2 linked regions of the Homo sapiens genome follow. The protein of the gene in region 1 interacts with the protein of each later gene in a biochemical or structural test. Each region holds a gene or a part of one and is shown on either strand. Other genes may lie near its edges.

The links.
Region 2: the proteins of ZFAND5 (region 1) and RAD23B form a complex in vitro, tested with the Homo sapiens proteins (one study listed by BioGRID).

Annotation. Positions count from the first base shown.
Region 1 is NC_000009.12:72,361,995-72,378,575, forward strand, and holds the start of ZFAND5 (AN1-type zinc finger protein 5), read right to left. Parts: upstream 3,215-16,581; 5' UTR 2,702-3,214; intron 2,599-2,701; exon of another isoform or gene 1,613-2,598; 5' UTR 1,476-1,612; intron 1-1,475. UniProt on the Homo sapiens protein: Involved in protein degradation via the ubiquitin-proteasome system. May act by anchoring ubiquitinated proteins to the proteasome. Plays a role in ubiquitin-mediated protein degradation during muscle atrophy.
Region 2 is NC_000009.12:107,316,949-107,333,169, forward strand, and holds the end of RAD23B (UV excision repair protein RAD23 homolog B), read left to right. Parts: intron 1-1,803; coding exon 1,804-1,931; intron 1,932-5,034; coding exon 5,035-5,170; intron 5,171-6,941; coding exon 6,942-7,069; intron 7,070-7,885; coding exon 7,886-8,056; intron 8,057-12,594; coding exon 12,595-12,708; 3' UTR 12,709-15,241; downstream 15,242-16,221. UniProt on the Homo sapiens protein: Multiubiquitin chain receptor involved in modulation of proteasomal degradation. Binds to polyubiquitin chains.

The sequences.
Region 1 (16,581 bases):
AAGATGGGAGAAGGGGACTAACCAATTTTGACCTGGCCAGACCCCTGGTAATTATTCCCCAAAACATTTTATCTTCCCTTTTGTAAGTAAAAGTGCACCATACAAATATTAAGACAATCTAGCTTGTGTGGAGTGACCAAGATCCACAACTTACTTTTAACAACAGTATTAATTTAGTTGACACTGTCTCTTTAAATATTAACTGGAATTTAGCTGACTCATTTTGGAGCAGGGTAGTGTAAACATTTCAACATCACTTAGGAAGTTTATTAATAAACACTTTCAGCTGGGTTTTTAAATGAGCATAATAGGAGCAAAAAATGCTTTCAAATGATAAATATGTATGTATTTGCATGCCCACCACGCACAAAATATGTGTGAATGTTTGCCCTATGCATGAAAGTTGGGTCACTCCTTAAAACCAGTTTAAGTATGCTAGCTTACATTTTCTACACTGAGGCCCAGTCTCATGTGACATTGGCTTTAAAGTTTAAGGCCAAGCGATCAACCTACCTAAGTAATTTTAGTTAATCTGATTCTTAAAATATTTGTTTTAGATAAAATGGAGGATACTCCATCTAAAGATTTCACACACTCAGAGATAACAAAGTATTCCAACTTTGCTTCAGAGAACATGTCTACCTTCATTTCATTATAAATAACTTTCAACTGCGAGACACACAAGAGGTACCAGGACATGAGTCTTCTACATGGGTTCCCATCTTTTAGATTTTTTTCCCCTAGAAAGCCAGCTTTTAAATGCCATCACATGTGCACAGCTTGCTTTAATATTTCTCAGAAGCTCAGATCACATGGGAGGGCGCTTCAGCCTGTCACAAGGCTGCAATGTGACAAGCTGAGCTGGATGGAGGCTCTCACATAAAGCCTAGTCAACAGGGGCCTCTGAAATCAGCTTCTATTTATATCTCAAAGCCTGCCAACTCCTACACAACCCCAAGAACTAAGGATGCAGCGTTCATATATCTAACATAAGAAAACAAAAAAAGGGCTGCTAGTTTTTTCCTAATGTAGGAAAAACTACAGAACAATCTCAATCTAGAAGATGAAAGCATAGTCAAAGCTAAAATGGTCAAGGTTGTTGATAAAAAACTAAGCACAGTGGAGACAGTGTAAAAAAGAATCCTCATTTAGTGAGGATTTAGGGGATGAAGTGGGGGATGTGTGTTCCCATTAGGTATTGCATTCCCCTTGTATTTTAGAAAAAAATACCATTACTATTTATTGCCTTTAAAGTAATTAGCAACTTGAGCATGCACGTGTCAGCTCTATCAGGTATAGCTAGAATGCAGATTTTATAAAGTTTATGGCTTCCTCTAACTTACAGCTTAAAAAAACACCCGAGTGTAACTGAACAATTCTCCAATTCCAATTCTGAACAAAGAGCTTTTACACCTATGGAATACAGTTCTTTCAGGTGCACATGATGTGATGAGATGGCATGAATTCCCACTCACCTGGGAATGGAGACCTGAGTTCAAGTCTCTAGTCTGCCACTAAGTCAGTGACCTTGGGCAAGTCCTTACTTTCCAGATTTCAGTTCCCTCTTTGCCAAATGGAGTAGAATTGACTTTTAAAGGCTCCTTTTCAGGGCCTGGGAGATAGAAAACAGGAGACAACTACAAAGAATCCTTAATTTTTTAGGGGGGTGTGGGGAAACATTTTAACAAAAAACTTCAAAGATAAAATTGCAGTATTTTCACCAACTGAGTTCTGAAAGCCTACTCTTTAAAAAAAATCCTAAAAATAAGGAATAAAATACATTCGTTTATGTTTTTAGAAGTCTGTATCTAAATCCCAGGTTTAAGAACGGGGATGTGTGACCTATATGTTCCTTTATCTTGGTATCTCCTTAGATGCTATCCCTTAGGAGACACTCAATCAATAAAGATAATCCGACCCTTCCCCGAAAACACACCTCCACGGAGTGCGTGGAAAGCGAGCAAAAAATTTCACATTCATCAGCCTAAATGCACCAAACAAAGGAGGTGTTCCATTTCCTCCATGAAAACGGATCTCAGGATAAAAACGCAGCGACGTCGAGAAGCCCAAAAGACGACGCCGAGAACCCCCGGCCCCATGTTCCAATGGATTTTGGAACAAGTTCGGGTCCCACTGATACCCCATCCCCCTCTAAGCAAAGGCCTCACTCAATAAAGCCCAACAGGGCCCTCTCCGAAAACCACTGAGTCATGCAGAACAGCAGCTCAGCAGGCCCGGCCAGCCCTTCGCCTGCAGGCCCCACGCGGATCCCCGACCCCCGACCCCCGACCCCGAACGGCTCCTCTTAGGGGAGAGCTAGGGGGGGCTGCAACGGGCAGGGGGCGCGGCCGCCGCCTCGGCCTCTTTGTTTCTCTGGGTCGTGGTGCCCACGCCGGGCGCCGCCGCGGAGGCGAGCGGCCTAGAGGCCGGCCCCGCAGAGGCGGCACGCCGTGCATTGTTTCCCGACCGTGCTGTGGAGCGAGCCAGGGACGCCGGGAGCCAGGTCTCGGGCCACGACGACAGGATGACGCCTCCGTCTTTGTGCTTCCTGGGCTGGCGGGCGGGCTCCCCTCCCCCGGACGCCGCCATCCGCGGCCTGCTCCGGCTTCGCCATTGGCCCGCGGCGCCCCGGTCCCTTCACTCCCGCCCCCGGCCCGGCAACAAGGAGCCCGGCTCCCACCCGCAGCCCCGTATCACTCACCCTGCAGGGTCCCAAATGCGAAAGCCGGGTTCGCGCGCGAAGCCGGCACGATGAGGCCGGGCCGAGGCCTCCGGGAAGGCTGAGCCGGGCGCCCTGGTGCCGCCGCCGCGGGCCGGGAGCGGGTCGGAGCAGCAGGCGGAGGTGGCGCCGCCGCCGCCGCGGGGTCTTCCTTTGTTCCTGCAGCAGCGTCGAGCGTGGCCGGGACACGCCGGAGCTCGGGAAGTGGGAGGAGGGAAGCGAGGGGGGGCCGAGGAGGAGGTGGAGGGAGGACCGGCGGCCGCAGCGGCTAACGCTGCTCGAGGCGCTCGCCTGTCGTCGCCTCACGCCTCCACAGGCCGCAGGTTGGGCGGACGAGGAGGGCGAGCGGACCGCGCGCCGCGAGGCCTGGGGCCGTAAGGGCCCGCTGATGGCGCTCTTCGCCGCTCCTGCCACCGCCGGGGAAGCTGCGCGGCTCCCGGGAGCGAGCGAGCCCGCGTAGGAGATGCACACAGCTCCGCGTCCCGGCCGACTAACGCACTCGCCGCCCGGCGCCCGGGCTGTGAGGGAAAAGAGGGGGAGGGGGCGGGACCCGTGCGTCAGCGAAAACCCCGGCGGCGGCGGCGGCGGCGGGGAGCGCGGTGACGTCGCGGGCCCAAGGCCACGCCCCCGGTGCCCTGTCAGTAGGTCCAGGAGGCGGGGCCGAGACGGGTTGCTGTGCCTTCTCGCGGAGCCCAGCCACTGGCCTGGCAGTCGGCCCCTAGGGTGGAGCTGGGAAGAGCGAGTCCTGTGGAGGATGCGTTTCTATTTTTAACCCAATTGTCCGCCCTCAGCCTCCCTCCTTCGGATTTTCTCATTCAAACCCGTTTTTCGCCATCCTAGTTCTCACGCTTTGTCTCCAGCCCTGGGCAGACATTCCCTCCCCCAAGAATCGTAAGGATTCACCCCCAGAAAAGGAAAAGAATTGCCTTATGGCTTCGAGGTCTTTTCTGTTTATGAAACCTCCTCACTCCCCACACCCATTTTGAGCTCCGAAGTCCAGCCCGAGCGTGGCCCTGACGCAGCTGGCGGCGTGCGTTCGCTCGCCCAAGGTCACGGGTGGTTGTGCGGAGTGAGGAAACGCGCGGCCGCCCAGGGCTGCCAATGCCCCGGCGGCGCTGTTCTGAACAAACTGTTTTGGCCAGCCTGTGAAATCCCTGGAAATTGACGATTCCAGCAAAGCGTCGTGAACTGGGAAAGCACCAAATGTTCTACTCAAAAGCCGCGAAGGGACAAAACAAGCTAGACCCGAGGCCCAGATGAAGCGGGAGGAGGAGGCTTGCGAGAGGAAGTTCAAGGGGGGAGGTACTAGGCGGGCAGTTCAGGCACGAGGCACAGGTCCCCCATGGGTGAAAGGATGACTTTACCCGGAACACTGGGAACCTTTTCAGAGCACAAACAAAAAACATTTTCAACTGACCGCTCCAAGTGAATTTCAGTTCAACTCAAAATAACAAAATTACTAAGTCGGAAAGGACTTCTGAAATTTTCTAGTAAACAACGGTCTAACGAATACATAGAAATGATGTTTAGGGTTTATATTAGCCACATATAGAATGGAGAAGAGGTCCCTTCAGTGTTTCTCAAAGTTGGTAATCAGAAAAAAAATCACCTGGGGTGATTAAAGATTCCTACGCATCTCCCCTGGATATGGTTTTGGTTGTTCCGGGGTGGGAGCGGGGGTGGGGGGGGGCCCATATTGCGCTTCAGGTGGTCCTTATTTATAATCTGTATTTGGGGGAATGCTATACTGATAGCTTGAGCCACCACTGCCAAATCAAACAGTTCTCCGCCACAGTTAGCAAAGTACCTGGAGCATAACAACCTTTTGTTTTGTTTTTTAACAAATTCGGGTTTATTACTGTGATCAATTAATGTATTAGAGATTTAAGTAGTTTGGGTCACTGGTCCCACGACCACTGCAATTTATTTCCTTAAATTAGCAGATGAATTAGTAAAAAAAAAAAAAAAATAGCAGCTACCATTTACAGGCCATTTTCAGTGCCAACTATTTTCCATTTAGGGTCTCATTTTATCCTCACAGCAATTCACTGAGATAGGTACTATTATCATGTCCCTTTCTACAGATAAAGAAACAATGACTAAAAAGGCTTGCCCAGGGCACTGAAGGGCAGGGAGGCAATGGAGGTGATTATTATTGAGAACAAAAATAACTTGAATTTTAACTTGAATTTTTTTCTTTCTCTAGAATTGGAGTTATAGTGAGTGAAACAAGATAATTCCTGAAGAAGCATACTTTAAAAAAAGTCTAAGGGTAATGAGGCAAGCTCATTATTGAATAGTGTATTCCATAATATTATGTCACCTTCTGATAATTCATCTTCTCTATCACCCATTTATAATTTTCTCTGAGACTGTTTCAATCAAGAATGTTGCAGGTATTGGACCTAAACATACCAAGATTCCTTTTTAGCAGCTATTTTCTAGTGGTTCTCAAAATGTGGTCTCCAGACTACCTGGGAACTTATTAGAAATACAGATTCTCAGGCCCCAGCACCAAACCTGTGGAGTCACAAACTGGGGGTTAGCACAGCCGTCTGTGGCTTAATAAGTCCTCCAGGTGATTCTGATGCATACACAAGTTTGAAAACTATTGACTTAACCCTACCATGGCATCAGGTGACCCCTCTTTTTTTCAGATGGCTCACACCATGTGAAAGGGAAAAGTTTAAAAAAAAAAAGTCTCATATTACTGGTGTAACAGATTAAGGGATATACTTCTAAGAAGGTTTTTGTTTTATTTTTGTTTTCTTATATTTTAAATTTTCACTTGCACTCCAAAGACAAACTGAATTGCTAAACACAGAATATATAAGAGAATGCTTCTAATATAACATGCCAAAGGGCTTTGCTCTATAGTCATTAGGGAAGGTCAACTTTGGCCTGAAACCAACCTCTGTAAAAAAGATAATGAGTAGCCAGTCGTGGTGGCTCACACCTGTAATCCCAGCACTTTGGGAGGCCATGGGGGGTGGATCATGAGATCAAGAGACTGAAACCGTCCTGACCAACATGGTGAAACCCTGTCTCTACTAAAAAATATACAAAAATTAGCTGGGCATGTTGGTGCGTGCCTGTAGTCCCAGCTACTCGGGAGACTGAGGCAGGAGAATCACTTGAACCCAGGAGACAGAGGTTGCAGTGAGCAGAGATTATGCCACTGCACTCTAGCCTGGTGACAAAATGAGATTCCGTCTCAAAAACAAAACAAACAAACAAACAAAAAAACAGATAATGAGCAAAGTTGGTCGTGCTCAAAATGTGATATTGGTTAGGTGTGGTGGCTCACGCCTATAATCTCAGCACTTTGGGAGGTGGAGGCAGACGGATTACCTGAGGTCAGGAATTGGAGACCAGTCTGGTCAACATGGCCAAACCCTGTCTCTACTAAAAATACAAAAATTAGCTAGGCGAGTGGCAGGTGCCTGTAGTCCCAGCTACTCGGGAGACTGAGGCAGGAGAATCACTTGAGCTGGGGAGGTGGAGGTTGCAGTGAGCCGAGATTGTGCCACTGTGCTCCAGCCTGGGATAACAGAGCGAGACTCTGTCTCAAAAAAAAAAAAAAGTTTTGCACATTTGCTACTTTCCAGGCACTCACTTAACTTGGTGCTGGGATATACATTCATGTAAAAAAAAAAGATGTTACCCTGTTCTCATGGATCTTACTGTCATTTGGGGAGAAAGATATTATCATATAATATATAATTATGAACTGGTAAATATTTTGAAAGAAAAGCATAGAATGCTATGGGAGCATATAACCAATCATAACGGATCTTGAAAACTCACCCAGGTCTGAGTTCCAACCATCCCCATGGCCAAAGGAGCCAGGCTTATTTCCTTAAAGTAGGTAACCTGGTAGTCTGCTTAAGAACTCAGGTAAAGTCATTGCAGGTTCTCTTACACTTTTCTTTGTAAACTAGGCCTGGAAAGGGGATTGATGATGGGAGAAGAGCAAATGTAATTAAATTTCTTAGAGAAAACTGACATCCCTTAAAAATAGCAATATAAGTTATTAGTCCACTGTAAAATGTAAAAGACCTGAAGTTATTTTATCTTGACATATAAGTTCCTATTATGGAGACAAGAATTGCTGCTATGACATTATTATAATACTTGGTCATAAGTAACTATTCATTTTCTGTCTGTGCTTGAGTAGAACATGGTGAAGCACAAAGCCTTTTCTAGGGTCTTAAAAACTTCAGAGTGGCCGGGTGTGGTGGCTCATGCCTGTAATCCCAGCACTTTGGGAGGCTGAGGCGGGATGATCACCTGAGGTCAGGAGTTTGAGACCAGCCTGACCAACATGGTGAAACCCTGTCTCTACTAAAAATACAAAATGAGTTGGGTGTGGTGGCGGGTGCCTGTAATCCCAGCTACTCCAGAAGCTGAGGCAGGAGAATTGCTTGAACCCGGGAGGTGGAGGTGGCGGTCAGCGGAGATCACGCCATTGCTCTCCAGCCTGGGTAACAAGAGCGAAACTGCTTCTCAAAAACAAAAAACAAACAAACAAACAAACCCACACACAAAAAGCACAAAACTTTGATGTGTCACTGGACGTTCACATAGTGCCCTTCCTCCCTTTCGTTCCCAGCCCCTTCCCAGATTTCAAAGATCAAGGTAAAGGACTGTTTTATAGAAGTATTTTCAAAATAATTGGCTAAAAGGATTATAGTATTGTATTTAGAGCAAATCCACTAATTTAAAAATTAAGGCTGGGCGCGGTGGCTCACGCCTGTAATCCCAGCAGTTTGGGAGGCCGAGATGGGCGGATCAGGAGGTTAGGAGATCGAGACCATCCTGGCTAACGCGGTGAAACCCTGTCTGTACTAAAAATATAAAAAATTAGCCGGGCTTGTTGGCGGGTGCCTGTAGTCCCAGCTACTCCGGAGGCTGAGGCAGGAGAATCGCTTGAACCTGGGAGGTGGAGGTTGCAGTGAGCTGAGAATATGCCACTGCATTCCAGCCTAGGCAACAGGCAAGACTCTGTCTCAAAAAAAATTAAAAATAAATAAATAAGAAATTGATAAAGCAAGTTGCAATTTCATTATTATATAGACCTTTTGGTAAATTAAAATTCTTAATTATTTTCTCTGAAAATAACTTGATCAAAGAATCTTCAAATAAAAGACATAGATATCTTACCAGATTAGAGAAGACTTTCTGACACTATCTAGATACTATCAACGTAGCATTAAACAATTTTTGAGACTATTTGAAAAACTAAAAGCTTTTATTGTTTTTAATTTTCTTATTATTTTTTTTGAGATGGAGTTTCTCTCTCGTCGCCCAGGCTGGAACCTCCATCTCCCAGGTTCAAGCGATTCTCCTGCCTCCGCCTCCCTAGTAGCTGGGATTATAGGCTCCCGCCACCACCCCCAGCTAGTTTTTGTGTTTTTAGTAGAGAACAAAATCTGGCAGTCTTGTCTTGAACTCCTGACTTCAGGTGATCCGCCCACCTCTGCCTCCCAAAGTTCTGGGATTAAAGGCGTGAGCCATCGAGCTGGGCCTGCCTAATCGTTTATGTAAATCAAGAACTTAGGTTGAAGGAAACTGATGATTTACTATGTATATATATTTTGTTGTAAACACCATTTAAGAAACAAAATATTTTGGTCTCAACTCTTAAGAAATTTTTTTTATTGAACAAGCTAAGTGTGGGTTGTTAATCTCAGTAGTTAGCTCTGGGATTGTCTCAGAAACAATACTTTGGGGCTGGGTGAGGTGATTCAAGCCTGTAATCCCCGCACTTTGGGAGGCAGGAGGATCATCTGAGATCAGGAGTTCGAGACCAACCTGGCCAACATGGCGGATCACCTGAGGCAGGTGATAACCTGAGGTCAGGAGTTCAAGACCAGCCTGGCCAACATGGTGAAACCTCATCTGTACTAAAAATACAAAAATTAAGGCTGGGCATGGTGGCTCACACCTGTAATCATCGCATTTTGGGAGGCCGAGGTGGGTGGATCACCTGAGGTTAGGAGTTCAAGACCAGCCTGGCTAACATGGTGAAACCCCGTCTCTACTAAAAATACAAAAATTAGCCAAGCATGGTGGCGGGTGCCTGTAATCGCAGCTACTTGGGAGGCTGAGGCAGGAGAATCACCTGGGAGATGGAGGTTGCAGTGAGCCGAGATCGTGCCACTGCACTCCAGCCTGGGCGACAGAGTGAGACTCCCTCTCAGAAAAAAAAAAAAAAGAAAAGAAAAAAAATTAGCTGGGCGTGGTGGTGTGTGGCTGTAATCCCAGCTACTCCGGAGGCTGAGGCATGAGAATCGTTTGAACCCAGGAGACGGAGGTTGCAATGAGCTGAGATTGTGCCACTGCACTCCAGTCTGGGTGACAGAGCAAGACTCCCTCTCAAAAAAAAAGAGAAAAGAAAAGAAAAAGAAACAATACTTTGGAGCATATCATAACCTGGGTTCATGGGTGGTGGGGTTGGCCAGGAAGACAGGAATGGTGTCAGTGATTTAGTTAGAGCCCAGCAACTGTGCTGTTATAAAGCTTAGGCAGGAGGCAATTGTTCCTAAGGTCCTATTAGCCAGCAGAAAAAAAGCTAGAAACAATTAGGGAGGTCAGGATTCAGACAGAAGACTAGCATGAGAAAAGTGGGTAGGGTGGGCCTCTGTCCTGGAGCAATCTAAGTTCTAGGCAGAGAGCCAAGGCAAGTATCTTAAGTTTGTGTAATGTCTTTCCACCTACAATGTATATTCAAATGTATTAATTTGATAAATTCTCACAACAGCCTATTGAAATAACTCTTATCTCTCCTTTTGCTGGAGGAGTTGACTGACTGAGGCTCAGGGCAAAGTTATATATCCTGTCCATTGTCATATATCTAGTGAGAGTACAACCTTCTGTTCTTTGGCACAGTGTTTGTTGCCTCTTCAGGATCACTTCCCCCTTTAAATTTATTTCATAATTATATTTACCATTAGAATGTTAACCTTTTTTTTTTTCTGAGAGGGAGTCTCACTTTGTCACCCAAGCTGGAGTGCAGTGGCGCGATCTCGGCTCACTGCAACTTCTGCCTCCCAGGCTCAAGCAGTCCTCCCACATTATCCTCCGGAGTAGCTGGGACCACAGACACGTGCCCAGTTAATTATTTGTATTTTTGGTAGAGATGGGTTTCACCATGTTGCCCAGGCTGGTCTCAAACTCCTGAGCTCAAGCAATCTGCCTGCTTTGGCAGATGGATTACAGGTGTGAACCATGGCGCGAAGCCTAGAAAGTTAACCATTCTTTTTTTTTTTTTTTTCTGAGACAGAGTCTCACTCTGTTGCCCAGGCTGGAGTGTAGTGCCATCATCTTAGCTCACTGCAACCTCTCCCTCCTGGGTTCAAGAGATTCTCCTGCCTCAGCTTCCCAAGTAGCTAGGACTACAGGCACATGCCACCATGCCCTGCTAATTTTTTTGTATTTTTAGTTGAGATGGGATTTCACCATGTTAGCCAGGATGGTCTCGATCTCCTGACCTCATGATCTGCCCACCTTGGCCTCCCAAAGTCCTGGGATTACAGGCATGAGCCACCGCACCCGGCCATACCATTCTTATCTTGTGTATCGCTCACCTCACCCAGCAGTCTCTAACAGGCAACTTCTGTCTCTTTTGCTAGCTCCAGCTTATCTGTCCATCTCCTAAATGTTGGCATTTTTTAGGTCTAGGTCCCGGGCACTCTTTGTTTTTTCACTGCTCATACTCTCTCAGAGCGACTTTACCCACCTTCATAGATTCAAATGAAGTACTCAAAGGAATGAGTATCTGTACTCATCCCTTGGCTTATAAATGGTTTATTTATGAATTTTTCACTTACAAAGATATAGCTATTTGTATTTATTTATTTATTTATTTTGAGACAGAGTCTCACTCTGTCACTCAGGCTGGAGTGCAGTGGCATGATCTCGGCTCACTGCAACCAGCCTCCTCGTTCTGGACTCAAGAGATTCTCACGCCTCAGCCTCCCCAGTAGCTGGGATTATAGGCATGTACCACCATGCTTGGCTAACTTTTGTATTTTTAATAAAGACAGGTTTCACTGTGTTGGCCAGGCTAGTCTCAAACTCTCTGGCCTCAAGTTGTCCACGTGCCTGAGTCTCCCAAAGTGCTGGGATTACAGGCATGAGCCACCACACCCAGCTGACAAAGGTATATCTATTTTTAAAATTTTACTTACAAACATTTTTCAACTTAATCCAGAAAACTCTTCTTTTTTTTTTTGTTTGTCTTTGCATACTGAAGTTATGCTCTGTCATTGGAAGAGAAATGTATAGCTAACCACTACTATTGTTAGGTAGTGAATAAGTGGGAGTAGTGAATAAATATCTAGAAATAGATATGAATTTATATTTATTCCATGTGGATCAATGGCTCTAGAATGAACAAGATAAAGTTTGAACCTGGGAATTTCAGAGCCAGTACTTCAGATACTGGTATATGACTGATTTAAGTTGTTTTTGTATTATAACTTACAACATCATGACCAACTCTAAATGTGAAGCATATAAATATGTAAGGGAAAATTCTTTTTATTGAAAAATTAAAAGTGATAAACTGAAGCAGGACAAATAAATAAAAACATTAGCTTCACCAAAGAAGATATACAGATGACAAATAAGCATATAAAAAGATGCTTCACATAGGCCGGGCATGGTGGCTCACGCCTGTAATCCCAGCACTTTGGGAGGCTGAGGCAGGAAGATCACGAGGTCAGAAGATCGAGACCATCCTGGCTGACACAGTAAAACCCCGTCTCCACTAAAAAACACAAAAAAATTAGCCGGGCATGGTGGCGGGCGCCTGTAGTCCCAGCTACTTCGGAGGCTGAGGCAGGAGAATGGCATGAACCCAGGAGGTGGAGCTTGCAGTGAGCCGAGATCGCACCACTGCACTCCAGCCTGGGTGACAGAGCGAGACTCCATCTCAAAAAAAAAAAAAAAAAAAAAGATGCTTCACATTATATGTCATCAGGGAAATGCAAATTAAAGCAACAATGAGATACCACTATGTACCTATTAGAATGGCCAAAATCCAGAAAACAAACAACACCAAATGCTGGTGAGGATGCAAAGCAACAGAAACTCTTATTCGTTGTTGTTGGGACTACAAAATGGTAGTCACTTCGGAAGGCAGTTTGATGATTTTTTATGAAGTTAAACATACTCTTACCATATGATCCAGCAGTCACACTCCTTGGTATTTACTCAAAGGAGTTGAAGACATGTCCACAAAAAAACCTGCACACAGATATTCATAGCAGCTTTATTCGTAATTGCCAAAACTTGAAAGCAACCAAGATACCCTTCAGTAGGTGAATGGAGAAATAAACTGTGGTACATCCAGATAATAGAATATTATTCAGTGCTAAAATAAACGTGTTATTAAGCCATGAAAAGACATGGAAAACTTGAATGGATATTACTAAGTGAAAGAAGCCAGTCTGAGGTCCGGGCGCGGTGGCTCACGCCTGTAATCCCAGCACTTTGGGAGGCCGAGGTGGGCAGATCACGAGGTCAAGAGATTGAGACCGTCCTGGGCAACATGGTGAAACGTCATCTCTACTAAAAATACAAAAATTAGCTGGACGTGGTTGGCGCACGCCTGTAGTCCCAGCTACTCGGGAGGTTGAGGCAGTAGAATCGCTTGAACCGGGGAGGCAGAGGTTGCAGTGAGCCGAGATCACACCACCGCACTCCAACCTGGCAACAGAGTGAGACTCTGTCTCAAACAAAAAAGAAGCCAGTCTGAAAAGTACGTACTGTTAATTTCAACTATATGACATCCTGAAAAAGGCAAAACTATGGGAACAGTAAAAAGATCAAGTGGTTGCCAGGGGATAGAGGGGAAAGAGGGAGGAATATGCAGAACACAGAGGATTTTTATAATAGAGAAACTACTCTGTGTGATACTATAATGGTGGCTACACGTCATGATCAATTTATCCAAACCCACAGAACCTACAACACCAAGAGTGAACCCTACTTTAAACCAAGGACTTCGAATGATAATAATGGGTCAATGTAGGTTCATCAGTTGTAACAAACATACCACTCTATGGGATGTTGATAATGGGGAAGGCCATGCATGTGTGGAGGCAGGTGTATATGGGAAATCTCTGTACCTTTCTCTCAATTTTGCTGTGAACCTAAAATAGCTCTTAAAAATAAAGTCTATTATTAAAAATAAAGAAATAAGTGGGATCCCTCAAATTCAGACAAGCTTTGATTGTCACCCCAAAAATTAAAAAACAATTAGGTCTGTTAAGTGCTTGGATAATATAAAATTGAAAAAATAAGAGATTGTTAGGTTTTTGTGTTTTTTTTTGTTTTTTTTCCAGACAGAGTCTCACTTTGTCACCCAGGCTGGAATGCAGTGGCGAGATTTTTTTTTTTTTTTTCCAGACAGAGTCTCACTTTGTCACCCAGGTTGGAATGCAGTGGTGAGATCTCGGCTCACCACAACCTCTGCCTCCCGGCTTCAAGTGAGTCTCCTGCCTCAGCCTCCCGAGTAGCTGGGATTACAGGTGTGCACCACCACACCCAGCTAATTTTTGTATTTTTAGTAGAGACAGGGTTTCACTATGTTGGCCAGGCTGATCTCGAACTCCTGACCTCATGATCCGCCTGCCTCGGCCTCACAAAGTGCTGGGATTACAGGCGTGAGCCATCACGCCTGGCCTGTTAGGTCTTAGTAATACTATCGCTGAACTGTGTCTAAGGCTAAGCCTAAATTGTTGGGATTTCCTGAAGCTTTTGATGCTGGAGAGAATGCTTCCTTGAACTTCCTAATTATATAGCAGAAGGTGATGTCTTTGAAGCCTTCACGAAGGCAATTGAGGGAGTCCAGCGAACTAAAGAGTAGAGTTCAATGGGCATCACAGATTTCAGATTCGAGAATATTAGTCTTAGGTTATGGGATAGATTGCAGCTGTAGACTATTGAGGTACTTGATAATGGCACAGAGGAACTTCAGAATAACTTCAGTATCTGTCATTATCATCGTATTTGAAGAAAACTGATCTTTTTGGGGAAACAAATTCCCTGAAATCCAATGCTCTCTTGTACTTTTTATTGGATATAGAAGGATGGTCCATATCAGTCTCCTCCAGCTTTCCCAAAGATCAGAGAAGCAGAGAAGATTTCTTTGTTGCTTTCTGTGGAGACCTGAAGACCACCCTGTGCAGTGGGTCTGATAGAAGGAGGCACTGACACCCCAGGTGCACTTGCAGCTTCTCTTCTAGTCCAGTTCCTTCCTTTCAGGAAGACTTCTCTTTCTCCATCCTTTTCTGGCTAAGAGGTTTAGAAGCTAAGAGATTGAGCAGCCTTCAGGATGAAAGAATGAAATAAAGGATTCCTCCATGTTGGTCAGGCTGGTCTCAAACCCCATCTCTACTAAAAATACAAAATTAGCTGGGCATGGTGGCTCATGCCTGTAAGCCCAGCTACTCGGGAGACTGAGGCAGGAGAATCACTTGAACCCGGGAGGCAGAGGTTGCAGTGAGCCGAGATTGCACCATTGCACTCCAGCCTGGGCAACAAGAGCAAAACTCCTCAAAAAAATAAATAAATACATACATAAATAAATAAAGGATTCCTGCAATAGGAGTTAGATGCAACTGGATGACTTCTAAAGTCCCTGGCAATTATAAGACTGTGATTTCTGGCCAGGCACAGTGGCTCACACCTGTTATCCCAGTACTTTGGGAGGCTAAGGCAGGCGGATCACGAGGTCGGGAGTTCAAGACCACCCTAGCCAACATGGTGAAACCATGTGTCTACTAATGATACAAAAAATTAGCCGAGCATGGTGGCATGAGCCTGTAATCCCAGCTACTCGGGAGGCTGAGGCAGAAGAATCGCTTGAATCTGGGAGGCGGAGGTTGCAGTGAGCTGAGATTGCACCATTGCATTCCAGCCTAGGCGACAGGGCGAGACTCCATCTCAAAAAAAAAAAAGACTGTGATTTCTTTGAGTGCTTATTTAAATAGGTAAATTTATGGTTAATTTAATGTTTTTAAAAAAATTTCATTCGTTTGTAGTCACTTGACCTTATAGTTAAGATAGAATATTTAAAGATGTTAAAAAGACAGAATTTTACAGTAAATTAATTTTTTTTTTTTTGAGACGGAGTCTCGCTCTGTCGCCAGGCTGGAGTGCAGTGGCTTGATCTTAGCTCACTGCAACCTCTGCCTCCCAGGTTCAATCGATTCTCAATCTCTTGACCTTGTGATCTGCCCGCCTTGGCCTCCTAAAGTGCTGAGATTACAGGCGTGAGCCACCGTCTCCATCCAGTAAATCAATTTTGAAAATAAAAACCAATACAGCAACATGACTACATAAAGATTAAAGGAACTATATGTGTTACGAGCAAATAATGTTTAGTATTTATTTTGTGCTTACTTTGTGCTTTTATATGCCTTATCTCTAATTCTTACAATAATTCTTTGAAGCAGTGATGATCATCCTCTTTTGCAGAGGCAGAGCTGAGGCACAAGGAGATAAGTAACATGTTTAAAATTGTATAGTTGCTATCTGAGAATGAAGTCAAACCCAGGTCAGTCTGACTTCCAAAGTCGAATTCTTTCCAATATAGTAAGTGCCTTTCCTAAACCATTGACAGTTGCAGAATTTTCGACTTGCAGTGAATACTAGAGGGTCCTCTCCAGTACCCCACCCAGCATAGAAGTCTTCTAAACAACATCTCCAGACCGGGTGTGGTGGCTCACGCCTGTAATCCCAAAGCTTTGGGAGACCGAGGCGGGCAGATCGCCTGAGGTAGGAAGTTCAAGACCAGCCTGACCAACATGGAGAAACCCTGTCTCTACTAAAAATACAAAATTAGCCAGCCAGGCGTGGTGGCACATGCCTGTAATCCCAGCTACTCGAGAGGCTAAGGCAGAAGAATTGCGTGAACCCGGGAGGTGAGCCGAGATCATGCCATTGCACTCCAGCCTGGGCAACAAGAGTGAAACTCCATCTAAAAACAACAACAACAACAAAACATCTCCAGCATTCAGATTCTGTGCTGGTACCGCTAATACTGTGAAAGGATTTGCTCACAAGGCAATCTATTCCAACTTCCCCAGAATCCTGAGATAAGATTTAATCAGGCTGGGCGCGGTGGCTCACGCCTGTAATCCCAGCACTTTGGGAGGCCGAGGCAGGCGGATCATGAGGTCAGGAGATCAAGACCATCCTGGCTAACATGGTGAACCCCCCCCGTCTCTACTAAAAATACAAAAAATTAGCCGGGCGTGGTGGCGGGCGCCTGCAGTCCCAGCTACTCGGGAGGATGAGGCAGGAGAATGGCATGAACTCGGAGGCGGAGCTTGCAGTGAGCAGAGATCGAGCCACTGCACTCCAGCCTGGGCGACAGAGCGAGACTCCCTCTCAAAAAAAAAAAAAAAAAAAAAAGGAACTTTAGTGTTCCATTTAAATATATTCCACCACTATTAAGATACCATTGGGGCCAGTCATGCTGTCACCTGTAATCCCAGCACTTTGGGAGGCCGAGGTGGGCAGATCACCTGAAGTCAGGAGTTTGAGACCAGCCTGGCCAACATGGTGACACCCCATCTCTACTAAAAATACAAAAATTAGCCTGGCATGGTGGCAGGTGCCTGAAATCCCAGCTACTCAGGAGGCTGAGGCACGAGAATCTCTTGAACCGGGGATGGGGAGGTTGCAGTGAGCCAAGATCGTGACACTGCATTCCAGCCTGGGAGACAAAGTGAGACTCTGTCTTAAAAAAAAACAAAAAAACAAACAAAAAAACAAAAAAAAACATTGCCAAAAAACAGCTAACAAATTTTATTATAAAAAGACTTACTGAGAGATCATGCTCAACA
Region 2 (16,221 bases), about 35 Mb from region 1:
CTAAGATGGCTGGTGTTGTGTAAAGGCCCTGGGGCAGGAAAAGGTGTGGCCTGCTGAAGTAACACCGGGAAGATGAGTGTGGTGGGTGGAGGATTGTTGAGGGCTGGGAGCCAGAAATAAAATGAGGGGTTTTGCGCACACGCGTGCGTGTGTGTGTGTGTGTGTGTGTGTGTTTACTTGACTTTTGCAACTGGCTGAAGAACAGATTATAGATATGGAGACAAGAGTTGGAAACAGGGTGTAATCCCATCTAGAGACTGTTGTGGGCTTGTCTTCAGTGATGACAGTAGAGAATGAAGAGATGGGTTTGGGGTGTAATTTAGAGATAGGACCTACCAGGTATGCTGGTAAGTGAGGTGTGGAAGGAAGAGGAAAAGGAACTGAAATCACCAGGGTTTTTGTCCAAGTGCTTAGGTAAATAGAGGTGCCATTTGTTTAAAGAGAGCAGACAGACAATGGTGGGACACATTTGAGAGGGAAATCTGAATTGCAATTAGTTGAGGAATGAGTGGAATGTGAGAAAGTGGACACATGTTCAATAGCTATGGCTGTGATGAGAAGACAGCAGATGGTTCCTCAAAGAGGAATTAGGATGAAGTCAAAGGTGGGAGGTGTGTTTTTGTTTTAGAGTGAAATATAGGACATAGTTAACTACTGACCCAGGATAATTACACAGAGGGGTAAAGATGTTGGTGGAGAAGAGGGAGGATAACCAAATCCAGTTTGGTTTGAGTGTGAGGCAACAATAAAGGTAATGGTCCCCAGAACACAAGCAGAAGAAAGGATAGTTTTAAGTGAGGTAAGTTTATGAGGAAAATAGGTTTCATTTATTCAGAGTGTTGTCTGTATTGAGAGGAGGGAGCATAGGAGTCTGTAAGAAGTGACTTGGAATATTAGCGCTTTGGGCATTTTACCAACTTTGTATAGTGTACAAGATTTTAACTTTCTAGCTCCTAACCTCTCTTTCCCCCGTTTCAGTTATATAAGGTATCAAAGGGAAACTGTGAACTTGTTCCATCGGAGTTGATGGTTTGAAATACCATCCCTTCCCCAGCATGTTTTCAGAATTTGGTGTCTCTTCTTACCAGTTGCCTTCCCTGACCTCCTGCTAATTCTCCCTTACCTTCATACCTCATTTTTCTATTGTACTCTGAAACATATTATATGAGTTTCCTGTTGCTACTGTAGTAAGTTACCACAAACTTATTGGTGTAGAACAACACAGATTAACTGTCTTCTAGTACTGTAGGTTAGAAGTGTGACACAGGGCTCACTGTACTAAAATCAGGGAGCCGGCATTCCTTTTTGGAGACTCCGGGGAAGAATTTTTTTCCTGATCCTGTCCTACCATACCTTGGCTGGTAGCCCCTTTCTGCATCTTCAAAGGCAACAGCATAACATCTCTCATCCTGGTTTTGTCTCCTCCTCCTCACACCTGTTTCTCTGACCCTCTCATCTGCCTCCTCCTACTACTATTAAGGATTCATGTCATTACACTGGACCCACCTGGATAATCCAGAATGAGGTCTCTGTCTTAAAGTCAGCTGATTAGCAACCTTAATTTTATCTATAACCGCAATTTCCCTTTGCCTTGTAACCTATTTATAGGTTCCAGGGATCAAACCAGAGGGCATCTTTGGGGGACCATTACCTACTACATATATGTTGTAATTTATACTGTTACTCATCTTTGTATTCCCAGCATAGTAGTTCCTGAAATGTTGTATACATGAATCAATAAATGTATAGAGAATGCTTATTTATTAAATGTTCCTTTTTTTCCCCTCCACCCTCCCTTTTTAGTGACGGGTCAGTCTTACGAGAATATGGTAACTGAGATCATGTCAATGGGCTATGAACGAGAGCAAGTAATTGCAGCCCTGAGAGCCAGTTTCAACAACCCTGACAGAGCAGTGGAGTATCTTTTAATGGTGAGAAATATGTTTTACTTTACTCCATTCTGTTGTTTAAGATTAAAATCTCAAAGAAACAGATTTTAAAGGACCAGTTCACTTGTCACTGATATATGCTAGATGATATACATAATGCTTTTTTTTTTCTAGTATGTTTGTATTTTGTGTTAATAAAATGTAACCTTTTTTAATCTAATGGTCCAACATTGTAGTAGCTTTTTAGGTGCCACTATGCGTGAATTATTCAGAACAAAAATTTCTTTTTTCTTTTTTTTTTTTTTTTTTTTGAGACGGAGTCTCGCTCTGTCGCCCAGACTGGAGTGCAGTGGCATGATCTCTGCTCACCACAAGCTCCACCTCCCAGGTTCACGCCTTTCTCCTGCCTCAGCCTCCTAAGTAGCTGGGACCACAGGCGCCTGCCACCATGCTCGGCTAATTTTTTTGTATTTTTAGTAAGATGGGATTTCACCATGTTAGCCAGGATGGTCTTGATCTCCTGACCTCGTGATCCGCCCGCCTCAGCCTCCCAAAGTGCTGGGATTACAGGTGTGAGCCACCGTGCCTGGCCAAAATTTCAAGCTTGAGAATCCGGGCCAAATTCTTTTGCTTATACTGTGTATATTTCTGTAATAAGTTGCCAGCTTTTTAAAAACTGGGAAATTTCACATAAAAGTACAGATTTCTGGTTTAACTGGACAACTTTGATCCCAGATTTTTGCAAGGGATTAAGGAAAATATTTTAGATCGTGGAATCTAATTCATTATCCTCTGATTCACTCTGTTACCAACGTAACATCATGCATTTAATGAATGATGTTACTACCTGGTTCCGTTGGCATTTGAATTTGTTTTTATAGTCAGTAGGAGTTGAGGGACTTTTTGAATAAAGTATTCTTTTTTTTACTGGTAATGGGAGTTTTTGAGAAATAGGTTGTTGTGGACATCAACTGAAACCCTTGGTATTAAGATGAAAGTCTGCTAGTTTTACAGATGTGACACAGGCTAAAGTAATTGAATTAAGTTTTTTAAAATCTCAGACTTCTATAATTGTCTGGTGTTTTGGAGTATTATCAAAGTCTGAATTGCCCTAAATATCATCTTAAAGTTGCCTGATTCTAACCCTTTTGGGAATTACATCCACAGTTTAACCCATTCCTTTGTGTCTAGGTTGTACTTCTGTTAAAAACTCCTTTCAGGTAGCTAGCTAGTTTCAGAAGAGTCAGTTATAAGCCTCATAACTGTACTCTGCCTCCACCATTTATTTGCCTATGCCTTTGCATGTGAAGTTCACAAAACCTTTTTCTTAGCATATTATTTTATCTTTTTAAATTCACTTTTTCATTATCTTCTTGAGTAGTGTCTTTAAATGCTGGCAGTTTATCCAGTTTGTTTGGAATTGTGGAATTAATAATTGTTGTGAATTTGTTTGGTGAGGAGTGTGTACCCTAAACAGATTGTATAAAAGTATTAGCTTTTATGGAGTGGCTTTCATTTACACCTGATTTAGAATTCTGTATAAGTTCAACAGTATCAGTTATTTTGATCTAATAGATGTGGAGTTTTGAGGTATAAAAATACAGAATCATTGTTACCAAATGCTAAAACTGCTGTAGAGCATCAAATGCAAATAAATAGATGATACATGAGTTCATCAAAAACAATTTATAACTAAAATGTTTTTTATATATTTGCTCTTTGTTTCATAGACTGAAGGGGAAAAGTTGCTTTTAACTGTTACTAGTTAAGAGATAGGTTAAGGTGAACGGATGGAAAGAAGAAATGTTGAGCATTTATATAAGAGGCTATGTAATGTGTGAGAATAGAGGTCGATCTATAGCAATAAAGATGAACTTTTTAGTTTAATAAAAGAGAATTTGATGGACGCCCTGGATCCTAAATTTGTATGTAGTTTGTTAGCACTTAAATAACTGCCCATCTGAGTTAAGGGTTTGCGTTGGTTAACTCATTCAAAAACATTGGTTTTAATGCCTGGAGTGACATCTAATCCATGCAGCCATTTTCCTGCTGTGTTACTCTTCATCCTTTATATGTTGTTGCTTTTGGCTTCTGGTTTATTAGGGAATGGAAGCATTTATCATCTTATTCAATTGTAATACTTGGTTCTTTATTCTCTTCAAAATCTATAAGAACTTGATAAAGACTTTTTAAAAATTTTAAATGACAAGTCTATCAATCATGTGCATCAAAATAGGTGTCCCAAAAGAGTTTAGTGCATGCAGTTTTAAGCTCTTAATAACTTTAAAAGATAAGTACTATAAACTTACAAAAGGCATCACCTAAAAACTAAATGGTTTCAATTTCTTTTATATCGATTTTATGAATTTTGAAAAATTAAATTTTTTGAGATACTTTATCTCATTTTTTGAGATACTTTAAGTATCTCATTTATGAGATACTTTAAGTATCTCATTTATGAGATACTTTGACACTTTAAGAAACACTTCACTGAAAAGTACCTCAAATTTATGAGATACTTTCTGAGTGACACTTTCTCAGTACCATGGATCAGTAGGGGAGATCCTCCTGCCTGGCCACTGTGTACCTGGTCTGTATCCATTAGATATTTTTTCCCCCAGGAGTCATTTCAGAACTGTCAAGTGTGCATCAAAACCTCTTTTTGGATTATCTTAAGCTAGAGTTGCAAACTCAATCCTTTTTATCACTGAGTAACAGCTGATAAAGATTTCTAAGAAGTTAAAAAGTCAACTGAACTAATAGGTAGCACAAAAACCTTTGGTTGTGTTCAGTTTTAAGAAGGTACATGTATCAATATTTTTCAAATTTGATGCTAATTACGTGTGCCTGGTAGGTGTCTTATTGAACAACACAGAGAATATTTCCATCATCATGGTAAGTTCTGTTGGACAGTGCTGCTTTGCATTATTATAGCAATGTGGGTTTTTCTATAATGCACCCAGGTCATTTCTAATCTAATTTGAATCCATGCAGCTTAATAATCCTTTACTTTTAATTGAAGCAGACATCTGTTTGATGCTTTTGAAAATCAAACAAGATGTTAAATAGACTATAAATCTTTTACTCTGTATAATATTTAATTTTGCATGATGGGATATCTTAAAGCTTGGAAATTCTATTACAGGGAATCCCTGGAGATAGAGAAAGTCAGGCTGTGGTTGACCCCCCTCAAGCAGCTAGTACTGGGGCTCCTCAGTCTTCAGCAGTGGCTGCAGCTGCAGCAACTACGACAGCAACAACTACAACAACAAGTTCTGGAGGTAAAGCGGAATCTTCTGGATGGGGAGGGAATGGCCCTGAATTTTTAGTGTAAAATAATTTAACCTGAAATACTTCAGAAATGACGTTCATTCCCAGAGCAGTCGAATAATTCGTTAAGTTCTCTCTTCACTAATGTTTGAGAAAGGCCCAAAAGAAACTTTCCCAAGTGGATGTAAAAGGTATCCTTGCTGATATTAAACATCAGTGTTGCAGTTTTGCCGAAGGGCATATTCTGTTTTATTTGTTTTAAGGAAAAGATGCTTTCCAGTTTGTATTTAGTGTTACTTTCTGATGCCATTCAGAATGGTTTGCTCACTTTGTCTCTTACTCTCTCCATAAATGTTACAAAGTGTATGTAATTTCAAAGCCAGCAGGATTTTAGTAATTATACAGCCAAGGAAATGAAACCGTGAGAGGTTTAAAACCTTGTATCTAGAGGAGAAAGCAAAGCTTGAATTGAAGTCTCTTTACTGGGGTGCTGACCATACCCCACACATTGCTATAGGTCTGACTACAGAGCAAAGCCTGGAACCTGCGGTCAGCTTAGGAATTACGCAGTGTTCTCCTTCGTTCGTTCTTCTGTATATTAATAAAGTAATTTAAACTGTTGATCTTGAAAAGGCCATTCTTCCATGCATTTCCTAGCTCTGATAATGATAGTCACCTCTGGTTGACAAAGGTCACTCAGTGCTTTGTGTACAGTCTCCCAAGGACAGGCCCTTTGTTTGTTGTGATTCAGCATATGGGAGTGGAAAGAGATGACCACAGCTCTGCTTTGGATTTGGGGTCCTGTTCCTTTCAGCACTTATTAGGTGACATAGTCTCTAAGTCTCGTTGCCTTCACCTGTAAAGCTGGTATTATATATGGAAGAACAAAAAACCCATGTGCTGTGGTCATTTCAATTGGAATGATTGTCTTCCTGAATAGGAAATTACAACATACATCTAAAAATTCTCTTTTATTCATTAGTAACCTCAAAAACAATTCCTGTATGTACGATTTTTGGTTTCCTATAGCATAACCAGACAAGTACCAGCACCCTGAAAAAGCCAGAAGTTCTGTATTTTATATTTTATTTGGCATTATTAACATTTATTATTGTGAATGGATTTTAGACTGAAGAGTTTAGATATATTAGTACTAGATTGCCATACAGCTTATTTATCCGAGTTTTTGTAGTTCACAAATGTTTGAAAATTAATGGTAATAACCGGAAGTCTTCCTTAATGTAAGTTTGGATTAAAGTTTCTCCTGATTTGCAAAACCTGACCTCAGACTTTAAATATCTTTTTCTTCTTTGGTTTCTTGAATTCCTAGGAATTCAAGCTCAGATTGTGTTCTTTTAGGGGTTTTCATTGTTTATAAAGTAAGTGAGTTTTTGTTTTTGTTGTGGTGTATATTTTTCTTAGGAACTTTTAAGCAACAGGAACAACTTTTAGTACTTTTTATTTTGATAGAACACACACAGGAGACAAGTTTCTAGTATTATTTTATAACGTTGAGTGCCAAGGGCAATTATAGGAAAGTTTGGTTCATATTACAGTCAGCGTTCTGCACTCCCTGCCTTTGCTAATAGGAGTAATTTTTGCCGTATAAAACTTGCAAGTTGGTACAGTTGGAAGATTTCATCATTATTTACTTCATTTTATTACATCTGAGAACTCAAATCATTTTTTCTTTGATAGTGTTTGCTGTCTAAATGTATTATTTAACCACTGTTTGTGTATGTATTTACTGCTTTTGTTTAGAAATGTTTATGTGTATTTTAGGACATCCCCTTGAATTTTTACGGAATCAGCCTCAGTTTCAACAGATGAGACAAATTATTCAGCAGAATCCTTCCTTGCTTCCAGCGTTACTACAGCAGATAGGTCGAGAGAATCCTCAATTACTTCAGGTGACTAATCAGTGTCAGTTTCACAAGTGATTTAGAGTGTGTCACAATTTGAAAAAGTCCATGAACGGTCCTTCCCCTCCTCAAATACAACTCTGTATTTGAGAATGTGAATGTTTTCTTCCAAGCTACACTTAGATATTGTAATCTAGATAGGTGTACTAAAAAAACAGTTGGGATATGGAGGTTGGGTTAAATTAAGTTGACCAAATAGTAGTAAGTTTGGGAAACATTTTATATTTCCTTTTTGGAGATTCCCACTACACATTAATATGTTAAAGAATTTGGGAAGCTGTTTAACAGAGAAACTGCCTAACTTTAAATCACTTTTCACAAGCTTATTACTCAGTTCCTTTTTCTTAGGAACTTTTAAGCAACAGGAACAACTTACTCTTAGAAAAAATAGCTGTGGGGCTTCTTTAGTGATCAGATCACCAAGTATTTGAATTTTATACAGCATTTTAATGCCCACTAGTGTGGAAGGTAAAAAATACATGCAAGTATTAAGAATAAGTTCTATTCTTATAGTCCCACAGTAGTTTTTTTTGTTTGTTTTTTGTTTGTTTTGTTTTTTTAAGCACAGGAGGCTCAGAGCACTTAAGAATTTGAATTTCTTCACTGTTTACTTTGCCCAAAAGTACTGAATTTCTTTACTATTGTATAAGAAATCACATCCTTCCAAAGACTGAATAATCCAGAATCACTAAATTACGTTTGCAAAAGTGTAGCCTTTTCTCTTAGTAATATTTAGAATTTCTCTGTTCCTGCAGATACTTAATATCAGTGTATTATTTTTCTCTGTCCTTCATATCACCACAGCAAATTAGCCAACACCAGGAGCATTTTATTCAGATGTTAAATGAACCAGTTCAAGAAGCTGGTGGTCAAGGAGGAGGAGGTGGAGGTGGCAGTGGAGGAATTGCAGAAGCTGGAAGTGGTCATATGAACTACATTCAAGTAACACCTCAGGAAAAAGAAGCTATAGAAAGGGTGAGTTTAAGTAAAACTTTAAAAAAATTAGTTCTTGGCTGGGCTCATGCCTGTAATTCCAGCACTTTGGGAGGCCAAGGCAGGTGGATCACCTGAGGTCAGGAGTTCAAGACCAGCCTGGCCAACGTGGTGAAACCCCATCTCTACTAAAAATACAAAAATTAGCTGGCGTGGTGGCACATACCTGTAATCTCAGCTACTTGGGAGGCTGAGGCAGGAGAATTGCTTGGACCTGGGAGGTGGAGGTTGCTGTGAGCCGAGATTGTGCCACTGCACTCCAGCCTGGGCAACAGAGTGAGACTCTGTCTCAAAAAAAAAAAAAAAAAAAAAAAAAAAATTCCTTAGTCACACTAGCCCCATTTCAAATGCTCAGAAGTCACATATTAATAATAAGGTTTTTCTATAATTTCTTTCAATAGTGTCCTGTAGTTTTCAGTGTAGAAGTTGTGTAATACTTTTGTTAAAATTATTTCGAAGTATTTTTATTCTTTTTGATGCTGTTATAAATGGATTTTTCTCTTAATTTCATTTTCAGACTGTTCATTGCTAACTATATAAAAATACAATTTAATTGTGTATATTGATCTTTTATCATAAAACCTTCTTGAACTGTTATTTATTCATTAAGTAGTTTGTGCATGTGTTCATTAGGATTTTCCATATACAAGGTCATGTCATCTGCACATGGAGACAGTTTTACTTCTTTTCCAATATGGATACCTTTTATTTCTTTGTCTTATTTAACTGCCCTATCTGGAGCCTCCAGTATATTATTAGACTAGCAAGAACCAACAACATCCTTGTCTGGTTCTTGATCTTAAGGGAAAGCATTCAGTCTTTCATCACTAAGTATGATATTATCTATGGGTTTTTTGTGGATGCCCTTTATCAGATTGAAGAAATTCTCTTCTGTTACTAGTTTGTTCATCACGAAAAGGTGTTGGATTTTGTCAAATTTTTTTTCTTTCTTTATTAAGATGATCATGTGATTTTTGTCCTTTAGTATGCTTTATTACATTGATTGATTTTGTATGTTGAACCAACCTTGCATTTCTGAGATAAATTTTACTGGTTACAGCATATGATCTTTTTTATATGTTGCTGGATTTAGCCTGCTTGTATTTTGTTGAGGATTTTTGCATCTGTTCATAAGTCATATTGGTCTGTAGTTTTTTTGTGATGTTTTTGTCTGAATTTGGTGTCTGGGTAATACTGGCCTCTTAGGGTGAGTTGGGAATTATTCTCTCCTGTTGTCTGGAAGTATTTATTAAGAATTGGTGTGGGCTAACACGGTGAAACCCCGTCTCTACTAAAAATACAAAAAAAATTAGCCAGGCGTGATGGTGGGCGCCTGTAGTCCCAGCTACTCGGGAGACTGAGGCAGGAGAATGGCGTGAACCCGGGAGGCGGAGCTTGCAGTGAGCCGAGATTGCGCCACTGCACTCCCGCCTGGGCCACAGAGCGAGACTCTGTCTCAAAAAAAAAAAAAAAAAAGAATTGGTGTGAATTTTTTGAATAGTTGATAGAATTCACCAGTAGTCTGGTCCTGGGCTTTTTTTGGGGGGAAGTTTTGTGATTATTGATTCAGTCTCTTGTTACTTGTCTATTCAACTTTTGTATTTCTTTTTTTTTTTTTTTTTTTTTTTTGAGACAGAGTCTCGCTCTGTTGCCCAGGCTGGATTGCAGTGGCGTGATCTCCGCTCATTGCAAGCTCCACCTCCTGGGTTCACACCATTCTCCTGCCTCAGCCTCCCGAGTAGCTGGGACCACAGGCACCCGCCACCATGCCCGGCTAATTTTGTTTTGTATTTTTTTAGTAGAGACGGGGTTTCAACATGTTAGCCAGGGATGGTCTCGATCTCATGACTTCGTGATCCACCCGCCTCGGCCTCCTAAAGTGCTGGGATTACAGGCGTGAGCCACTGCACCCGGCCAACTTTTCTATTTCTTTTAGAGTCAGTTTTGGTGGTTTTTGACTTGGAATTTGTCTATTTTATCTAAGCTGTCTAATTTGTTGGCGTGCAATTGTACATATTTCCTTATAATCATTTTATTTCCTCTTTTGATAAAGTAATAATGTTCCTGCATTTATTCCTGATTTCAGTCATTTGAGTCCTAAGATATTTTTGTTTTTTCCCTTCAGTTTAGCTAAAGGTTTTAATTTTGTTCATTTTGTGGTGGTTGTTGTTAATGACAAAAATAACTTTGGGTTTTGTTGATTCTCCCTATTGTTTTTCTAGTCTTTTGTTTTGTTTTGTTTTAAGTCTCTCTAATGTTTATTTCCCTCTTGCTTGCTTCTAGTTTGTTCTTCCTTTTTTAGGTTAGGTTTAGTTTAGTTCTTTGTTTAGTTTTAGTTTAAGATTAAATTATTATCTATCTTTGTTAGCATAGATGTTTATAGCTATAATATTCCTTCTGCGTTTATGCTATAGTAGCATCCCATAAGTTTTAGTATGTTGTATTTTTGCTTTCTTTCATCTCAAAATGTTTTTTAATTTCCCATTTGGTTTCTAATTTAATTCATTCGTTATTTAGGATTGTGTTAATTTCCACAAGTTTATGAATTTCCCACATTTTCTCCTTTCGATTTCTAAATTCATTCCATTATAATCAGAGAATATACTTTCAATACTTTTCAACTTATTGAGGTTCGTTTTGTGGCCTAACATGGTATTTCTGAAGAATGTTCTATGTATACTGAAGAAGAATATAGTGTAGTTCTTATTAAGTGGTCTATAAATATCTGATAGATCTAGTTTGTAGTCAAGTCTTCTTCCTTAGCTGTTTTATCTATTATTGAAGGTGGAGCTGTAGTTGTCTCTATTATTGTTAATTGCCAATTTCTACCTTTAATTCTCAGTTTTTATTTTATGTATTTTGTGGCTCTGTTATATATAATTGTTGTGTCTTCCTGAACCCTTTTTATCATAAAATGCCTTTTGTCTATAGTAACAATTTTTATCTTAAATCTGTTTCCTCTGATATAGCCATTCTAGCTCTTTTTTGGTTACCATTTGCATAGTATATACCTTTTTCTATCATTTTACTTTCAACCTACTTGTGTCTTTGAATCTAAATTGTGTGTTTTGTAGAAGCAGGCAGTTGGATTGTACCCTTTACTTCACCTATCCTAGCTTTAATCTGGATAAAACCCAGATAACAAACTGATTTTTTAGTTTCTTCTGCTTTCATAGATGAATAGTTATTCGTGATGAATTGGGATTTTTGCCCAAATTTTAAGGGTTATTTCCAAATATAATCTGACACAGCAGTCTTTAACCTTTTTGGCACCAGGGACCAGTTACGTAGAAGACCTTTTTTTCTACCAACATAGGTGGGGTGGGCGCAGTGATTTTGGGATGAAACTGTTCCACCTCCGATCATCAGGCGTTAGTTAGGTTAGGAAGTGGGGTGGGGCGGTGGTTTTGGGATGAAACTGTTTCATCTCACATCATCAGGCATTTGTTAGGCTATCATACGGAGCACAGACCCTAGATCCCTCTCATGCACAGTTCACAGTAGGGTTCATGCTCATATGAGAATCTAATGCCGCCACTGATACAACAGGAGACGGAGCTCAGGTGGTAATTCGAGTGATGGGGAGTGGCTGTAAATACAGATGAAGCTTCACTTGTTCGCCCACTGCTCACCTCCTCCCGTGCGGCCCAGTTCCTTGCTCACCCACTGCTCACCTGCTCCTGGGCAGCCCAGTTCCTAACAGGCCAATGGCTGGTGCCAGTTCACGGTCTTGGGGTTTGGGACCTGTGATCTAACTCAAGGTGATTGAGACAATTGAGGAGGGTGACATTTGGCTGAGTTTTTAAAGGCTTTTAAAAGGAGTGAGTATTGTCACAAGTGATTTTTAATATAATAGACTAGGAAAATGAAATTAAGTAGCTGGTATTACCATTTAAAATGCTGTAACTGTTAAGCAGATAAAAATAGAACATTATCTTCAAAATGTACCATGTATTACTAATAATTGGTCACCTGTTTTTCTAGTATGGAGTGTTGAATAAAGCAAGGAGATTGAGAGTGATGTTTGATCCAAATGAAAGACATGAGTTGACATTAATAAATAAAACATAATTTGCTTTTAATTTAGAAATAGGTGAGGTGGTTAAACTATACTGCAGGTACTCTCATCCTTATCTTCACTCTTAATATACTAAAAGCCATTTGATTTACATATTTCTGTAGAGTCATTTATTTTTAAACCATAGCAGTTAGCAGCTAATTTTTAATTAGGCCAAAGAGTATTTGCATAGTATCTATTAAGCTTTAACTAGAAACAAAGACTTTTTTAGGTGATTAGTAAAGGAAAGGGTCTAGATTCCATCTAATCCCTTGGGTTGGGCAGTAAATCCATATTGATAGAGATGAATTCATGTAAAATTCTCAAGAGCTTTTTTGGGTTGCAGTATGTTTTTGAGTAATGATTTATCTTTAGTGCTATGCTGGAATCTATAATATGTAAATAAAATTAAATGTGCCATAATTGGTGTGTTGGATTTATATTTTTTTCCTTTTTCTTCCAGTTAAAGGCATTAGGATTTCCTGAAGGACTTGTGATACAAGCGTATTTTGCTTGTGAGAAGAATGAGAATTTGGCTGCCAATTTTCTTCTACAGCAGAACTTTGATGAAGATTGAAAGGGACTTTTTTATATCTCACACTTCACACCAGTGCATTACACTAACTTGTTCACTGGATTGTCTGGGATGACTTGGGCTCATATCCACAATACTTGGTATAAGGTAGTAGATTGTTGGGGGTGGGGAGGGAGGGATCTAGGATACAGGGCAGGGATAAATACAGTGCATGTCTGCTTCAATTAGCAGATGCCGCAACTCCACACAGTGTGTAAAATATATACAACCAAAAATCAGCTTTTGCAGGTCTTTATTTCTTCTGTAAAACAGTAGGTAACTTTTCCTAGGTTTCACTCTTTTTAGTGTACTAGATCCAGAAACTTAGTGTAATGCCCTGCTTTATATTTCTTTGACTTAACATTGGTTTCAGAAAGAATCTTAGCTACCTAGAATTTACAGTCTCTGTTTCATGGCAACACTGGATAATGGCTTTGTGAAATTTAAAAAATTTTTGTAGCGACTGTAAACAGAAATGCCAAATTGATGGTTAATTGTTGCTGCTTCAAAAATAAGTATAAAATTAATATGTAAGGAAGCCCATTCTTTCATGTTAAATACTTGGGGTGGGAGGGGAGAAAGGGAACCTTTTCTTAAAATGAAAATAATTACTGCTATTTTAAAATTTCTTGATCATTGAATGTGAGACCCTTCTAACATGATTTGAGAAGCTGTACAAGTATAGGCAGAGTTATTTTCCTGTTTACATTTTTTTTTTGTTTTGGGGAAAAAATTGGTAGGTGTCTAATTACTGTTTACTTCATTGTTATATTGCAGTAAAAGTTTTAAAACAACCATTGCATGTTTGCTTTTGATGTATCCCTTTGTGAAATTAGCACTTTTGGGGCCAATGGAGAAATGCAGCATTCACTCTCCCTGTCTTTTCCCCTTCCCTCAGCAGAAACGTGTTTATCAGCAAGTCGTGAGTCAAACTGCTGCCTTTTAAAAAACCCACAAAATGCTGATTCAGTTCAAAATTAATGCAAATGTTTCAAAACTGGGTTTCTGATATTTGTAAATGTGTTTCTTTATTAGATAAGAGTGTATTACCATTAAAGTCATTAGTATAATATTGCTTTCAAAAAGAAATGGTAGACAAAACTATAATCCAGCATCTTTTATTGCATTGGAAAGACTGGCAAAGTCTTTTGGATGGGTTGGGAGATGTGGCTGGAAAGTACTTTGGAAAATATACAATCAAGATATCTCATGGCATATTAAAAGAAAAATCTTAATAGCAGTGTTGGCTTTTATTTGGATTTTTTCATCTCAGTTTTTTCTGTGGAATCTCCTTCATTGGCATTGTTATTTAATCATAAACGGGGCAGATGTCTACTTGTTCAGTTTTTCAAATCTGTTTTCCTGAGTATAAATAAGAGTATTTAAAGAAATAATTTGGATTGCTTTTGTTTTTTGTTTCCTTTTTTTTAACCATCTGATACTAAGAAGATGAATTTGCACAGATTTCTCTGCATAATTTCTCAATATCTTTAGCACAGTATGGTGATGATGACTTTTAAGCATTTACATCACGTACTCATAACCTATTATGAAAATAAATGAAACTGGCTGGGTATGGTGGCTCATGCCTATAATCCCAGCACTTTGGGAGGCCGAGGTGGGCAGATCACTTGAGGCCAGGAGATTGAGACCAGCCTGACCGTCATGGCGAAACCCCGTCTATACTAAAAATACAAAAAATAGCCAGGCATGGTGGCGCACGCCTGTGGTCCCAGCTACTTGGGAGGCTGAGGCATGAGAATTGCTTGAACCCGGGAAGTGAAGGTTGCCGTGAGCTGAGATCACACCACTGCCATAAACATGACAGGCTTTTGGACTTTGTATTACCTGTATGTTTTATAATGGATCATGCATAATTTCTCAGGAGAATAAAATGAGAATTCATATATACGTTCATCTTTCAAGTCAGAGCAATGAGTTGGGAAAAGAGGTGGCATTTCTGATCGGATAATGGAATACTCTCATTTATTTTATGACATTCTCTGTCTACTCAGATCATAGTGAAAACTGGAAACAAAAAAAAAAAACAGCCTCTTCTTGGAAAGTGACAGCAGAAGGTGGCATGGAGCTTGTGTCCTTGGACAACAAATCTGGATATACTAGGATTAATTATCAGAAGACAGCTCAGGCCAAGTTTTGATCGTTCCATACAGTACCTTGTTTATCTGCTTCTTAAAGAATCAGCCGAGACACCATAAAAGAAATAGGCTTTTTGTGCCTTTTGCTGTTAATGTTTAATTTACAAACTGTTTTGGTAAATCTCTTAATGTAAGTAGCTATTTGACTTTGGAATTTTGCATTCGAGGTATACTGTCATTTCTTGAAATCTTTTTCTCGTTTAGTTGCTCTGTGGGAAATGTGAGGAAGCCTAAGTTTGTATTTGTAAATTTCTTATGCCATCCTCTAGTCAAATTTTTTTTCATTGTTTAAAAATACGGAAGTGTTCCAATATAATTTTTTCCTGTACTGGATGGCTAGGATTCTAGAGAATTGATTATAAAATATTTTCAATACATCCAACATTGCACTTCTCATTTTTTAAATGATTCTGTCACGTAGAATCAGAATTGAAAGTTGACAATGCTTCTGTCACTGATACTTCTTTTTACTTCAGTAATTGGTGAGTGTATCATATAGGAGGCCCAGGCACTAGATTGACTTTATTGGGTCTCCTGGTTCTTTTCTCAACACAGAGATGGGATACTTGCTGGGATGTTAAGGTTAGTGAGGTCTTCTAGGGAATGCATAAAATTTCCATTGTTCCATACTTGTCTGAAGCAGCCAGCCAAAGCCTGCTGCAAAATGTTCTACCGAAAGTAAGCAATTGGAGGGAATGAGTGTTCCTGACCCAGTCAGTTCTGGTGGATTCTCCAGCCATGAAGTTCAGTTGGCCTCCCCCATCCATTTTCCCCATTTTTTCCCCCTAAGCCAAGGGCTGGCAAACTACAGCTTCATGAGCCAAATCTGGCATATACCTGTTATGTGGTCCATGAACTAAGAGTGATCTTTACATTTTTAAATGGTTTCAATTGTATATGTTTTTTATCACCTCAAAAGTTTCAACTTACATTTCAGTGTCCTTAAAAGTGTTATTGAAACACAGCCATCCTCATTTGTTTACATATTGTCTATAGCTACTTTTGTGCTACAGAAGTTTGCTGTTGGATAGCTGCAGCAGACTGTGGCCTGCAAAGCCTAAATAATCACTATCTGGCCCTTTACAGCAAAGGTTTGGTACCCCTGTTGAAAACTGACTAGTCTACCCTAAGTTATATGATGCTTTTTAATTCCTCTCCTGACATTCTTGGACTCTTGACTTCAGGTCTTAGCTGTAGTCTGGCTTCCATGTGACTGTCACAGATCTTTCCAGAGGAGTGATATAACCCCTATTATCCACTCACAAAGAAAAGGAACATTGTGAGCCTGGTGTGCTGGCCTAGTGGTGTCTAAGTTACTCTTGGATGTTGCTACACTGTTTCTTATTCTTACATTAGG